2 separate regions of the Homo sapiens genome follow, and region 2 is linked to region 1. Evidence: fine-mapped expression QTL. A gene starts in region 1. The other region holds a variant in brackets. All regions are shown on one strand. Distances are from middle to middle. Region 1 holds the start of NPR2 (natriuretic peptide receptor 2). Region 2 overlaps RGP1 (RGP1 partner of RAB6A GEF complex).

Region 1 (2,875 bases):
GAGACCATGAAACCTGCATTTTAATCTCTCTTTTGCAACTAAAAAGCCATGTGGGATTGGGGGAGAGGAGCAAGTAAGGACACTGCGACCTTCCTCTCTGGGATTTGGTTTTCAATTATCTTTAAATGAGAGGGCTAAACAATATATTTATATGATCCTCTTAGCCCTGCCATTCTGTAATTCTTTCAGGAATTTTGTCATTTTGGATTTGCTTGTCTCATAAAACAATGTGTAGTTGCTTAAAAATCAACTATTCTATTTGGTTGACTTGGTCTAAAGTATTTCTCATGTTGTCTCGTCATTCTTTTGACTGTTCCTTTTTTTTTTTTTTGCCTTGGCCAGATAGGACAAAATTCCTTTTCACTGCAGTATTGGGAGCCTGGAACTAGAGTTACCAACCCCTCTGCGTTAAAGAAGGAGCTGTCCTGAGGCTTCCATCTCTACTGGGCTTGAGGCAAGAACATTGTTAGGGACGGCCTGCTCTTGGCCTCTGTGCCCCAGGGATTGCAAATGCATGTTCCTCAAAGGTAAGGGCTGTATCATTCGGCTTTCTTTGTATTCACAGGTACAGCTTGTGCTAGGCAGCCGGTGTTCAATAAATATCGTGCCTAAGGATAAAGTGGCATTGTCCTTAATTTCCCCCACCAAACCACTAGGTGTCGCCTTCATCTCAGGGAAACCATGCCCGTCCTCGCCCTATACACTCCCACCCCACTCCAGGGCTCCAGGAGCGCTCTTAGCTTGTGATTTCTGGAGAAATAGCTTGAAGGGGGGAGAGAAACCGTGGCTCTTAGCGCGGGCAGAGAATGGGCTTATGTGCATGTCCTTTATGACAGTTGGAGAAAAATCCCCAAGGTCCCATAGCAGTCCCTCTCAGCCACCATGAGATCATCCCTCACAAGCTGTTCTTGGGGTCAGATTGGCACTCCAGATATGAGGGCCCTAGGGAGAGCTTCCTAAGGGAAGCTGGGAGCAAGGTGGAACCCCAGGAGAGCGTGGATGGGCTTCCACTGCGGGGAGTGTCCCGCCGGTCCGTTACAGGCTTTCCCCAGGCGCCAGCCTGCGCTGTGCAGGAGACAAAAGAAAATCGAGGCCCTGACTGAGCAGATGGTGCGGAGGAAGCCGGGCGGGCTGCGGTGGGCCTCTGAGGACACGAGGAGGGCAGGGGGCATGGAGACAGCGGGGGGCCGAGAGTTGAGTCCCAAGCAAGAAGGAGCCTCGTGGACTTTCTAAGGACTGGTGGGAAGTGTACAGCAGGGGCCCCTGGCTGCTGGAGGGGCCCGTCCAGGGAGCGGGCATGGTCCGCGGTGGAGTAAGCCGCACTGCCGTCGGGAGGGCGCTATGGTTTGCTAGGTGAGGGGGCTGGTGAGGATACCACACGTCTGGGGATCCTCGACTGCTTCCTGGAGACTGGAACCACTGAGGGACTCAGGGAGTTCAGAGGGGAGACCCAAGAAGAACGGGCTGAGCGAGGGGGAGAGGACAAACCCTGGGGTCGCTGGCGTGTGTGAGATGGAAATGGAAGGAGGGGCGGCAGGGGGACCAGGGGCGTGGGGGAGACCAGGGTAGGCCCTGAGAGTGAGGGAGCGCCCGGGAACCCTGCTGGCCGGCGAGGCCTTGGTGCGGAGCCCCCAAGTGCTCACCGGGGTGGGTTTGGGACCTGGCGGTCCCGAGCGCCCGGGTGGGGGGTGGGGGAAGGCAGCCGGCGCCGGAGGGTGGGGCCGGGAGGGAGGAGGAGAGGCAGCGGGGGAGGGGCGGGGGCGGGCGGCCTGCCCGGGGGAGTCGCACTCGGCCGCCGGCGCAGCGAGCGGAGACGGGCCGGGCCGAGGCGACCTGACCCGGACGAGCGGCGCGCGCGGGGCCCAGGCGGGGGGCGGGAGGAAGCGCCGGGCAGCGCCGGCCGCCAGGGCCCAGGAGAAGCGGAGCAGAGAGGAGCGGGGACACGGGCGGGGCCGCCGTAGCTCCGGATGGGACCAGCGCCCGGGCCCGTTAGTCCAAGCAGGAGCTCCGGGAGAATCCTTCACAGGGAGATTTACCCCTGCCTTCCCCTGCCCTCCGGCCCAGGCCTCGCTTCGCTCCCCGCCTGCCCATGATCCCAGTCCTTCCGCGGCGCGGGCACCCTCCCACCTTACCCCCTTGGTCCTATGTGGCGCAGCGCCCTCCTGCCCTCCCGGCCCTTTCAGCTGTGAGGTTCCCCCAGGCCGTTTCTTTGTACCACCCGCCCCCCACCCCCACCCCATCCCAGTCCCAGATCCCCTTTTCCTTCTCAGCTTTAGATTTATCAGGCTTCTTCACCTCGCACTGTCCCCATCCTGGCCGCAGGCCCCCTCGGTCCCTCCCTCCCCCTGCCACCCCGTTCTCAGTCCTCAGTCCTTGCCCTAGGCTGGTAGCCCACTCCTTGCCCGCCCCCCGCCTTCCTCCCATCTCCCCCTCCTCTCCCCGGCCCCCAGCACCTTCTGCATCCCAGCCTACCTAGCCTACTCCTCCTCTTCCTGGCCCTCTTCCCCAGGCTCCAGGCTGGGGGGTGCTCGCGTCTCCCCTGTAGGCCAGAGCAGCCCCAAGTTCTGGGGGCGGTGGGGCTGCTGCTTTATCCCCATGGCGCTGCCATCACTTCTGCTGTTGGTGGCAGCCCTGGCAGGTGGGGTGCGTCCTCCCGGGGCGCGGAACCTGACGCTGGCGGTGGTGCTGCCAGAACACAACCTGAGCTATGCCTGGGCCTGGCCACGGGTGGGACCCGCTGTGGCACTAGCTGTGGAGGCTCTGGGCCGGGCACTGCCCGTGGACCTGCGGTTTGTCAGCTCCGAACTGGAAGGCGCCTGCTCTGAGTACCTGGCACCGCTGAGCGCTGTGGACCTCAAGCTGTACCATGACCCCG
Region 2 (2,869 bases), 34 kb before region 1:
TTCTCATCATCCTGCCAGGCTAACTTTAAGTCTCCTGCTTTTTCTCACTTGGATTTGGATCCATTTCTTCCTATTTCCGCTCATGTGAACTCTCCAGTTCTCCTTTCTCACCACTCTCCTGCTAGCCATCTCTTTGGCACTAAAGGCCCTGGTCAAATTGGATTTCTTTCATTTTTCCACACTTCAAAGACCCATGTTCTAGGTATTCTCCATAGGGATAGTCTCTTTGGCATTTATTTGGTTTTTCTACGTTTTCAGTCCCATTTACTCCAAGACTCACTCCCTGCCACCTAGTGCATCAGATACAGCTACTTCTGGCTGACTTTTCAAGGGGGACCACCCTACCTGTCATCTCTTCACTGTTCAGAAATGACTGTGTCAGTGCACCTCAAACTCCCTTGCTGTCCTTTTCCAAGGAGACAGCTAAGGTGGATGGAGATGCAGAATGGACCTCACGTTCGCCCTAGTCAGGACTGATACCCTTTCCGTTTCAGAGGATTGCCAAGAAAAAACTCACAGTTGAGGCAGGGTGCTCTGAGGTCGGCTGCGGTGTGGGAGGCACGGCCTGGGCCTGCTCTCTGGGCTGGAGCAGGTGGATTCGAAGGCCTGTCTAGCACGAGGGCCCAAAGGTCTTGTCAGTGGCCAGTAGCTCTGCCGCCTTTCCCAGAGAGGGGGTCCAGGGGACATCCTGGAAGGCTGGGCCCTGGGCCACCTTCTGCTCTTGCAAGCTAGAGCCAGCCCAATAGGGGGCGGATGTGAGTGGGGAGCTGGGGCGCATGAAGGTGGGGGTGATGCCGAAGGGGAAGGGATCGCCAGTGGGGATTGGTGCGTGTGCGGAAACGGGGACAGAAGTGAAGGTTCATCGCCTATAACGAAGATGAGGTAGGCATATAGGGGCTTCTGGAAAGCTAGAGGCTGGGCTGAGCCAGGAGTCCTCTCCCAGAAGTTGGGGGGCGGTGCAGAGGTGTGGGTCGAGCCCGCATGCGTGCCTGCTGGGGAGGGGGTGAGTGGTGAGGACCAGGCCCGCTGGGTCCTGGGGGCG[C/T]GGTGGCTGGCGCGCAGGTCCCGGAGGGGGCGGCTGGCGCGCACTACACGCTTGGGAACAAGGAAAACATCCGCCGGAGGCCCGGCCGGGCGGCGCTCCAGCCTCGGGGCAGGTGCGCGGAGAGGAAGTGAGAGCATTCCGGCCCCCCCACCCCAACCCCGGCCGCTGGCCCTCTGGTGAGTCACAGCCGACCCCCGCCGCCGGAGGGAGAGGGGAGCTGCGGGCCAGAGCCCCGGAGGGTCTGGAGGAGCCAGGAGGGTTTCTGGGAGCAGAGGGTCACTTAGTGGGCTTCTGTCGTGGTGTCGCTACGGGCGCGAAACGGACACTGAACACAGTCTGACTGTATGGAGGCAGGTGGGGAGGGATCCCCTGGGAGAACTTGGCGGGCCGAGAGCAGACCCCAGGGCAAGGAGGGGCCCCCGAGGGGGAAACCGGGAGTCGGGCAGGTGGCGTAACCCAGAAAGGGAAGGAGAGCCGGATTGATTGGGGTGAGAGAGGAAGGAAGCACGCCAAGTTAGGCCTGGGAGAACTGAGGGACCTGAGGAGGGAGGAGGGAGACCAACACAGGGTGGGAAGGCGGAAATGGCCAAACCCCAGGCATCAGGTCTGTCCAGAGGCTGACGTAGACAGTGAAGGGTGAAGGGTAGGTTTTAGGAGTAGGGGGAGTTATGATTATTTGGTTACATTTTGGGATTATTTGGTCTCACAGGTAGAAGGGAGCCTGCTGGTCTCTGTGTAACGGATGGCTTAAAAGCAAGGTTGTCTGCGTCTTGGATTACTGTCTGCCATTCAGCCTTTGCCAAAAAATTTGGCACTGATCTGCACATTTTTATAGTCATTTAAAATTGTATGACTCTGTCAAATGATTTAAGTAATTTTGGTGGATTTTTAAAAATAAAAAAATAAAAATAGAAAAGTTGCACAATCTAATTCAATATTTGACTTAAAACCAAAAGTGAGGCTCTCAGATTGGTAATATGGTATTCAGCCTTTTTCTTGTTTGGCTTTTGTGCCATTTGCCCCTCACTGACTTGATTGAATTCTTTGTGGCTGATGCCTCAGTTTTTCTGGATCAGTAGTGCTGCACTTCCACTTTTCCTCTCCCTCATTTTACTGTCTTTATTTTTAGCCTTTTTTCTGTGTAGCCCTCTAACCTGCCCTTTATATTTTGAACCAAATAAAACATTTCTTGGAATGGGAGCTTTGGACTACAGTATACAGACAAACAACTCACAATTTTAGCATATGAGGCTACTATCTTCTGTGGATGTGTATGTAATTATACAGTTTCTGTATTTATCCTGTGGCTGATAGAAAAAGTTAAAGCTGTTTAATTCACCATAGTATTTCTACAACACAGCAATTTATTAGTCTGACTTCTCTTCTAAAATCAACTCTAAAATGGTATTTTGTACTTGTCTCAGAGACGAATTCTGCCATGATCCTTATGATCTGTGTTATGTTGGGCCAAAGGTGATTACTTTATAAATTATAAAGATCCCTAAACTCTGCATTGCCTTTGGTCCCAAACAAGCAAATCTGGGTCAATTAATGAAAAAAAAAAGAAAAGAAAAGAAAATGTCTTACTTTGGGCCCTGTTGCACTCTCCCGTGCTGTTTTAGCCCCAGCCCTACTCTATTCCCAGTGGCCTTTGCCTTCATTCCTTCTTTGCTCTGCTGGGCATCTTGAGAGGAAAACTTCACACCGACTTCCTCTACTATAAATTCTCTCCCTCCTCTCAACTCTACACTTCTCTTTGCCAACATACACCACTACTGCTTCACTGATTTTTTTTTTTTAAGCCCACAGTCCTTTCTGGCTCTTTTC

The links.
Region 2: its variant is fine-mapped to the expression of NPR2 in whole blood (TOPMed, PIP 0.98).

What each region holds. Positions count from the first base shown.
Region 1 is chr9:35,789,814-35,792,688 of GRCh38, forward strand. It overlaps NPR2 (natriuretic peptide receptor 2), which reads left to right and starts at 1,778. Exons shown (of 22, transcript NM_003995.4): 1 at 1,778-2,875. The coding sequence starts at 2,596. It also overlaps a transcript of RGP1 not described here.
Region 2 is chr9:35,755,980-35,758,848 of GRCh38, forward strand. It overlaps RGP1 (RGP1 partner of RAB6A GEF complex), which reads left to right. Exons shown (of 9, transcript NM_001080496.3): 9 at 1-2,606. Among named protein-coding and RNA genes, the nearest start is that of MSMP, 3.1 kb to the left of the region's middle. RefSeq lists a silencer at 1,018-1,337. The variant C/T (reference allele first, on the strand shown) is at 1,043.